3 separate regions of the Homo sapiens genome follow, and all the other regions are linked to region 2. The links come from fine-mapping of genetic effects on gene expression. A gene starts in region 2. Each other region holds a variant in brackets. All regions are shown on one strand. Distances are from middle to middle. Region 1 overlaps LY75-CD302 (LY75-CD302 readthrough). Region 2 holds the start of LY75 (lymphocyte antigen 75). Region 3 overlaps PLA2R1 (phospholipase A2 receptor 1).

Region 1 (2,763 bases), 44 kb before region 2:
CAAGATTGCTTATGTGCTATGTGACATATGTGACATGCCTAGTATAGTGGCTGGCTCATAAAGGAGTTAATCAGTGTTAGCTGCTCCATCATCATCATCACCACCACCATGGACCATCACCATCACCATCCTTATTATTCTTTCATAATATTCTTGTTCTTGCATAAAACTTGTATTTCGCATGTCATAGTCTTTACTCAGTGGTGTTGTAATTGCTTGTTTACTTGTCTTTATTTCCTACTAGACTTTAGTTTTGTGAAGACAATGGCTATGCTTTGTACCTTGTCATTGTTCTATCACCCAGTGCCTCACTGACTCCTTGGACTGTTTATGAAATGGATACATGAATGCATTCTGCAAAGGAAGATGCCTCACTGGTCTTCTATGCCTTCCAATCTTACCTGTTGCTTTTGACATCTGTCTCAAGATGAATCTTCCTCATACCCTCCTTAGTTCATGTGACCCTCCCTACTCAGAAACTTTAAAAAATGCCCTGTTGCCTATCAAGAAGTGTAGAAATTCCTTAAAGTGGCATCAATCTGATTTCCTAATACTGTTATCAAGGACAGCACCAATGAAACTTCTTGATCTGTATTCTGTTCTCCACTGCCCTCTTCCACTTCCACCTTATTTTATACCACTTTCTCATACCATCCCCTCATGAAAAAACCTTACCCTATCCCATTTGTAGAAACTCTATCCATCCTTAAAGTCCCAGTTCAAGTCCCACCTCTTCCTGGGAAATGGCCATGGGACTCACTTTCTCCTCTGAATTTCATTAGCCTTCCTCAGCCCCCTCATTTGGAGCATATTACTGCGTGGTAATGAGAGAGGTTTTCTTGAATATGAATTTTATCCTCTCAAATGAAGTGTAAGTTAGGCTGCTGAGGGCCAGGCCATGGGTGTGCTTATCTCTCACTGCATCTAACATCATGCTTCACATAAAAAGACACTCCATGGATCTGTTACTTGACTGCATATGATGATGGACTTATGTTTTAAATATGCAGATTTTCCAGCATTGTACTGACCTTGACAGCAGCACAGTCTCTGATGTCATAATCCTGCTGAAACTCATTTGGCATGATAATAGTAGACACCTGAAAAGACAAGAGAGGCTTGAGAATTTAAGACTGATGTATAAATATTTGCAATTTAGATGTAATTTAGGCAGCCTTAATCACTCAAGTGCGTTGATATGCCACAGAAAGAAAACTTTTCCATCTCTTTTTTATATCATGATGCTAAATCATGAGAGGACTTAGCAAATGTCATAATGTCATAAGTTTCCAAACAAAGGAAGCCACAGTTTCAGAAGTGGAAGTTAATAGTGTATTAAGTTCGCCGCTGGAGTCATAGAGAATCAGGTTTGCAAAATACTTTTTTCTTTTTTTGCATGTGTTGAAATGCTCATTATTTGATTAACTAATCTCAGATATGCTCCAATTTGAAAATAAACTCAAGGAGTTTTACATTTAGAAAGAATAAAAAAGGAGGTGACATTGGAGTCACCAATTTTTGGTGACAAAAATTGGAGTAAATATTGAATAT[C/T]TGAGAATAATTTTGCTCCTATAACTATTACACTAATATATCCTTATAATATAAATGTGGAATAATAGCAAGGATTTTCTAGAGGTTTCTCCAAACAAATAATTTCCTCCAATAAGGATACTTTTGGCCAGGCACAGTGACTCATGCTGGTAATCCCAGCACTTTGGGAGGCCAAGGTTGGCAGATGGCTTGAGCCCAGGAATTCGAGACCAGCCTGGGCAACATGGTGAAACCCCATCTCTACAAAAAATACAAAAATTAGCTGGATGTGGTGGCATGTGCCTGTACTTGAGAGGCTGAGACATGAGGATCAATTGAACCCAGGAGGTTGAGGCTGCAGTGAGTCATACTGGCACCACTGTATTCTAGCCTGGGTGACACAGTGAGACTCTGTCATCCCCACCTAGTCCCCCCAGAAAAAGATATTTTATTTTTTGTATAACTCTTCCATATTTAGATAATAAAAAGAAAAGCTTCTTACTATAAAAATGAAAATAAACAGTATAAAGAGAAAGCTTTGAAAACAATCACTTGTGGCCAGATGTGGCTCACACCTGTAATTCCAACACTTTGGGAGGCTAAGATGGGTAGACTGCCTGAGCTCAGGAGTTTGAGACCAGCCTGGGCAACATGGTGAAACCCTATCTCTACAAAAAAATATAAGAATTAGCTGGGCGTGGAAGGGCACGGTAGCTCACACCTGTAATCCCAGCACTTTGGGAGGCTGAGGCGGGTGGATCACAGGGTCAGGAGTTAGAGATCACCCTGGCCAATATGGTGAAACCCCATCTCTACTAAAAAATTAGTTGGGCGTGGTGGCACATGCCTGAAGTCCCAGCCACTCAGGAGGCTGAGGCAGGAGAATGGTGTGAACCCGGGAGGCGGAGCTTGCAGTGAGCAGAGATTGCACGACTGCACTCTAGCCTGGGCGACAGAGTGAGACTACGTCTCAAAAAAAAAAAAAAAAAATTAGCCGGGCGTGATGGCATGCATCTGTGGTCTCAGCTACTGGGGAGGCTAGGTGGGAAGATCGCTTGAGCCTGGGAGGTGAAGGTTGTAGTGAGTTGAGATCGCAGCACTGCACTTCACCCTGGGTGGCAGAGTAAGACCCCATTTCAAAAAGAAAAAAATCACTCATACTACCCAAAGATGACTACTATATTTATAGCTTTACAATTTTTTGACTATATATAGAGAGACTATACATATGGG
Region 2 (2,763 bases):
CAAAGAAAATAAGAGCCACCAACAATTTAATGTTTTTCAAACTGCCTGGACAATCTTTTCCTTCCTCATACAGGCACGATAACAGAAGTGGCCGGTGGAGGGTGGCCCATTGAGTGCCCATGATGCAGTCCAACCAAGAAACAAAGTTCTCTGCACACCCCTCGCCCAGGCAAAAAGAGAAAGTAAAAGCAACCGGTTGCTGCCAAGGGGTGTGGTGTGGTGGGGCTGGCACTACCCTGAACATCAATGAAGGCTGTCTGTTTCTGGTCCTGCTTCCGCAGTGAGAGGCAGCAGGTCCCCAAGCAGGCGACCTGCCCTTCACCGTGAGGCTGTCAGCCTTGGGGGAGCGGGGTCATTTGGAGCTGATAAACCAATGAGAAGAAAGGTTTGTTGCTCTAGGCGGTGGGTGAGGGCATCATAGCTGACTCTTGGTCTTGGTCACTTTCGGAGGAGATGGTTTATTTAACCTGACTTCCTTCCTGATGCGCACCGTAGGCGCAGTGAAATCCGGGAATCGTGGGGAATCCTTGGCGCTGTGGGTGGAGGCTCCTCTTGGCCCTGTGGCCAAGGTGACCAAGGGCCGAAGGAAAAGCGAGAACGGGAGGGACGGGACGCAAGAGGGCAGATGGGGAACCCCATACTCCAGCAACATTATATAAGAGAGGCGACGATGGAGCAGCGCACCCGGCCAAAAAAGCCTCCGTGCGCCTACTCTACGGTGCACCGCGTCCCCTCTGCACCAGAAGGGCCCTGTCCTCCCACATCCACCGCGCCCTCCTCCGGGCCCCCGAGGGCACTGGGGCGCTTCCTCTGCCAGACCTCCCCTGCGACTCACTCTTCCGGCTCCAGAGCCCCCCCGCCCCAACAGCAAAGCAGCCGTGACCTGCCCCAGGGGCGCAGCCCTGCCCCAGGCTGGAAGGCAGCAGAGCTGTGGCGTCGAGGCACCCAGCGGACTGCGGGGCTGGCGTGCCCGCGGTTACCTGCGCGGCCAGAGGGCTCCGCGAGATCGAAGAACCAGAAGAGCAGCATGAGGAGCCCCGCCGGGCGGCGAGGGGTCGCCCAGCCTGTCCTCATCCTGAGCTGGCGCAAGCCTTCCGGCCGGGTCCTCGGGCGCACGCGGCTCCCGCCCCGCCTGCTGAGCGCGGCCTGCCCCGCCCGCACCTCTGTCTAGGCCTCTGGGGGCGCCCCGGCCCCGCCCCCGCCGCCCTCGGCCAATCAGACGTGCGTCTCCTCGGCCCCGGGGCGGAGCGGGCCAGGTGTGGGAAATGAACAGGGCTGGGCGCTAGATACCTGCGTGGGGTAGGACCCGCGAGGAAGAGGTACGTGCGGATCGGTGGGAGAGCCAGGCACCAGACAGGCTCCTGCACTGGAGGGTTCGGTCCCCGCCTCTTCATCAGCCAAGCTGGGGAGATGCGGCCCTTACTGGGACTTGGCACCGCCCTGGTGGGTGGGTTCTATCAGTTTAGAACCTTGGCCTCTGCCTGGCGCACTGTGGTCAGGGACGACTTCTCCATTCCAGCCTGGACTGGAAAGGGACCCATGATCTCTTCTACCCCGGAGGAGGAAGTGAGCACCTGCCCTGTGGGTGGCTGCGGCCAAGCCTAAGAATTCAGTCGTCCTTGGCAACGTCTTGGGTATTTTGACAGTGCAAACAAAGGTGGAATAATGGTACACTGCAGTTCTACCCATAGTTGTTAAAGAATTAAAAGCAAGAATTACTAGAATGACCAAACGACACTTCCAAGGATGACTTATGCTTTATAAAAAGTTGACCTTTGCGAGTAAGCTCTTTGCTTAATAATTTAATGATAATAATAATTAGCTGGTAGAAATGTAGAAGTCTGCATGCAGAACCAGAAATTTCATGTCCCACTCACTCTCTTCCTGTGGACACTGCTATCATTATAAAGAGGCCAAATTCTTAATGACCTAAGTTGCTCAAATGTGAATGTTTTATACTTTTAAATCTCGTCTTTGCTGAGCACATAATGTGTACTTGAGGTGGCCTCCATCCTTGTTGCATGAGGATGCAAAGACCTAGGTTGCTCTTCCTGACTCCCACTGCCAAGGTTTCACAGTTGGCTCCCAAACCTGCTCTGTCCTCTCCCCAGGGTCTGGCCTTTCAGTTCCATAGATATAGTGAGCACCTGCCATCACAGGATCTGGGCACGCCATGGAACAGAAGGACAAAAAGACAACATCTCTGCCCTCCCCTGAATACTGGGGAGACTGAGGCACTGTGATGGATAATATTGTCAGCTCGATTGATATGAACGAATGCAAAGTATTGTTCCTGGGTGTGTCTGTGAGGGTGTTGCCAAGGAGATTAACAGTGGACTGGGAGAGGCGGACCAGCCCTCAGTCTGGGTGGGCACCATCTCATCAGCTGCCAGCATGGCTAGAATAAAAGCAGGCAGAAGTTGGAAGGACTTGACTGGCTGAGTCTCCTGGCCTTCACCTTTCTCCCGTGCTAGATGCTTCCTACCCTCGAACATCGGACTCCAGGTTCTTCAGCTTTTGGACTCTTAGACCTATAAAAGTGGTTTGTCAGGGGATCTCTGGCCTTCGGCCACAGACTGAAGGCTGCACTGTTGGCTTCCCTACTTCTGAGGTTTTGGAACTCGGACTGGCTTCTTTGTTCCTCAGCTTGCAGACAGCCTATTGTGGGACTTCACCTTGTGATCATATGAGTCAATACTCCTTAATAAACTCCCTTTCATATATACATGTATCCTATTAGTCCTGTCCCTCTAGAGAACCCTA
Region 3 (2,763 bases), 110 kb after region 2:
GAAGATGAAAAAAGTTCTGGAGATGGATGATGGTAGTGGGTGAACAACAATCTGAATGCAGTTAATGACACTGAACTGCACACTGAAAAATGACTAACATGGTGAATTTTACGTTTATGTGTGTTTTACGTATATTTTACCACAATAAAAAAAATATTAACTGCAAAAGTGTTTTGGGGAGATATGACAGTTGCAGGAAAACGGTAGAGCTGTAAAAATGCTTTAAAATAATGCACATTTAAGCTTAGGAGGGGTATAGTGGCTCACACCTATAATCCCAGCACTTTGAGAGGCCGAGGCAGGAGGATTGCTTGAGCCCAGGAGTTCAAGACCAGCCATGGCAACATGGCAAGAACCTGTCTCTGTAAAAAATTTTAAAAAATTAGCCAGGCATGGTGGTACATGCCTGTAGTCCCAACTACTTGGGGGGCTGAGGCAGGAGGATTACTTGAGCCCAGGAGGTCAAAGCTGCAGTGAGTCATGAAGGCACCACTACACTCCAGCCTGGGCAACAGAGTAAGACACTGTCTCAAAAATAAATGAAAGTAAAATAAACTTAGGAGAAAATGAGATATTGCAGAATTTCTCACTTTTGGCAAAATTCACAAAATTGAATGCCATTTGGATTATTTTGTACCAATATTCTATGGCTGATTGATTCAAAATTTAGACATACATGGATTTAGCCAATTATCCATTATAATTTTGGAACTCAACTTTTGCATTCATGCTTTGTCTGGAAGCAAAGTGGCCAGGCCTGAAAAAATTTTGTAACAATCAGCAAGCAAACAAAAATTTGTTACTCAACAATAAGGATCTGTTTTTCTTCCCCTCTCTATTCCACAAAGTGTTAAAAGTCTTAGACCAGGAGCAGTTGCCTGATCACAAAAGAAATAAGTAATTTGTAGCAGGTGGTTCTAATTGTGCCCATCAAACCTGTCATTCCATTGTGCAGAAGAGTGGAAAATCGATTAGCAACTACAAGCTTGGGTACTGAAGAGTGACAGGAGTGTCTTAAACAGGAAATCAGTAATGGAAGAAAATGATTACCATGGCCACTAGTGGACACTCCTGGATCTGAGACACTTTCCATCTACTGCCCAACCTTCTCAGACAAAAGATGCTGTTTGCAAAAATTCCAACGTGTATGGTGAATCAAAAGCAGTACAGTGTGGACCCTTGTTTCTTCCCTGATGGACTCTGAATGATTAAAAACCAAGAGCATTGGCCCTTTCTTTCTTCAACTCATGAGTCCTGTG[T/C]TGGAGTTGCTGCTTTGAATGTAGACATGTTTTGGGGGTAGCATAAGTATATGTTAACTGACTTGGACAGATGACACATCCTGCTCATCTGTACTCCCTCAGGGCTTGGCGGGTGACCAGGCAGCACACCAGCACAGGGCAATCTGGACAGGCGTAGGAGGCCAAGACTGGGATAAAAACAAACTTCTCTATGCCATAGTTCTGCTTTACAGATGGACCAGGCATGAGCGCTGGCTACTGAATACAGTTTACCAGAGAAAACATTTAAAGTATTCACAACATAGTCTTGTATCCAGTTTTGGGGAAAATGAAACAGATTTTTTTCCCAGATACTTTCTGTCATTTGTATGAGGTCCCCAAAGGGTTCATGGAATATGAAGCATTTGTTCTAACAGATTTCTGCCTTAGCTTGGGTCACTGTGGCACTATGGGTTATCTGTAATGTCACTGTGAGTTTATCCATTTATTGTGCTATTCTACCTTCTTCACTTATTTCTTGTGTCTATGTTCGATCTCTTCAGCTGCTGGGTTTCAGAAAGCACTGGACAATAATAGCATGCCTTTTATTTCTTGTGGATAGCATGTCAGTGTTTAATATGGGGACTCTCACAAAACAGGTATTCAAAAAAAATTTTCTAATAAACTCTTGGCTATTAATTTTTTGTGTGGTCAGATAACATATGAAAAATAATTAACACAGTGCCAGGTATGTGACAGGCACTCAATGAACATTAAACAAAAAAATAAAGAATAAGACATAAAAAACAGGTGAAACAATTGGACTTATTTTCTTTGGTAAAAAACATAATTAAATTGTAATTAACAAAAGAGCGTATAGCTTCATTGGTCAGCCTCCTGTGAAGTCCAGTGTTGACTCACTGACTGGGGGACTTCCAACCCAAGGTGTTCTTGGAACCTTTTGGGTGAGTTAACAAATTGATAAAGGCTTTCTTCTGCCTGTTAGCCAAACCTGGGAGGAGAAAGGTAGAACTAAAAACAATGCTGAGATACATCAAAGGTAGTGCTATATTTCAACGGGAGGATCTCCTGAAAGTAAAATGTTTCACCAGGTGACTTAGTCTGCCAAATGCTATCAATCCATTTGAGTGTGTGTGTGTGTGCGTGTGTCTGTTTGTGTGTGTGTGTATGCATTCCTGTGCATTGTTTGGAACAGAAGCTGGGTAAGAAGGCAAGAAAGAGGGTAAGAGGAGGAAGGACATACTGGCAGCTTTGGATGTTGACTTCCAATGTGGGAGGAGCAGAGAAATCATACAGGAATTCCTCTACAAATTAGGCTTATATGGGAAGGGTCTCTAGGTAAAACCAGTTGTCCTATTTGCTGGTATTCAGTGAATATTTTTAAAGGCAATGGCCCAGGTAAATATGCAAGTGACTTGCTTTGCAGGTGTAGTTTCCTGTGGCACCACTGGAGTTCTACCCCGCTTCTGTCTTCCCCAGGAGGAGTGGGTCTCCCAGGTGTTCCAGCCCCCACTGTCCTCCTGGC

The links. PIP is the estimated chance that this variant, and not a neighbour inherited with it, causes the effect.
Region 1: its variant is fine-mapped to the expression of LY75 in whole blood (INTERVAL, PIP above 0.99).
Region 3: its variant is fine-mapped to the expression of LY75 in thyroid (GTEx, PIP 0.93).

What each region holds. Positions count from the first base shown.
Region 1 is chr2:159,859,790-159,862,552 of GRCh38, forward strand. LY75-CD302 (LY75-CD302 readthrough) reads right to left here. Exons shown (of 38, transcript NM_001198760.1): 15 at 1,032-1,100. LY75 (lymphocyte antigen 75) reads right to left here. Exons shown (of 35, transcript NM_002349.4): 15 at 1,032-1,100. Among named protein-coding and RNA genes, the nearest start is that of LY75, 44 kb to the right of the region's middle. The variant C/T (reference allele first, on the strand shown) is at 1,552.
Region 2 is chr2:159,903,609-159,906,371 of GRCh38, forward strand. LY75 (lymphocyte antigen 75) reads right to left here and starts at 1,148. Exons shown (of 35, transcript NM_002349.4): 1 at 981-1,148. The coding sequence starts at 1,074. It overlaps LY75-CD302 (LY75-CD302 readthrough), which reads right to left and starts at 1,148. Exons shown (of 38, transcript NM_001198760.1): 1 at 981-1,148. The coding sequence starts at 1,074. RefSeq lists enhancers at 60-109, 160-209, 430-479, 620-699 and silencers at 880-1,339, 1,109-1,350.
Region 3 is chr2:160,009,579-160,012,341 of GRCh38, forward strand. The region is part of intron 10 of PLA2R1 (phospholipase A2 receptor 1); the gene reads right to left. Among named protein-coding and RNA genes, the nearest start is that of PLA2R1, 52 kb to the right of the region's middle. The variant T/C (reference allele first, on the strand shown) is at 1,260.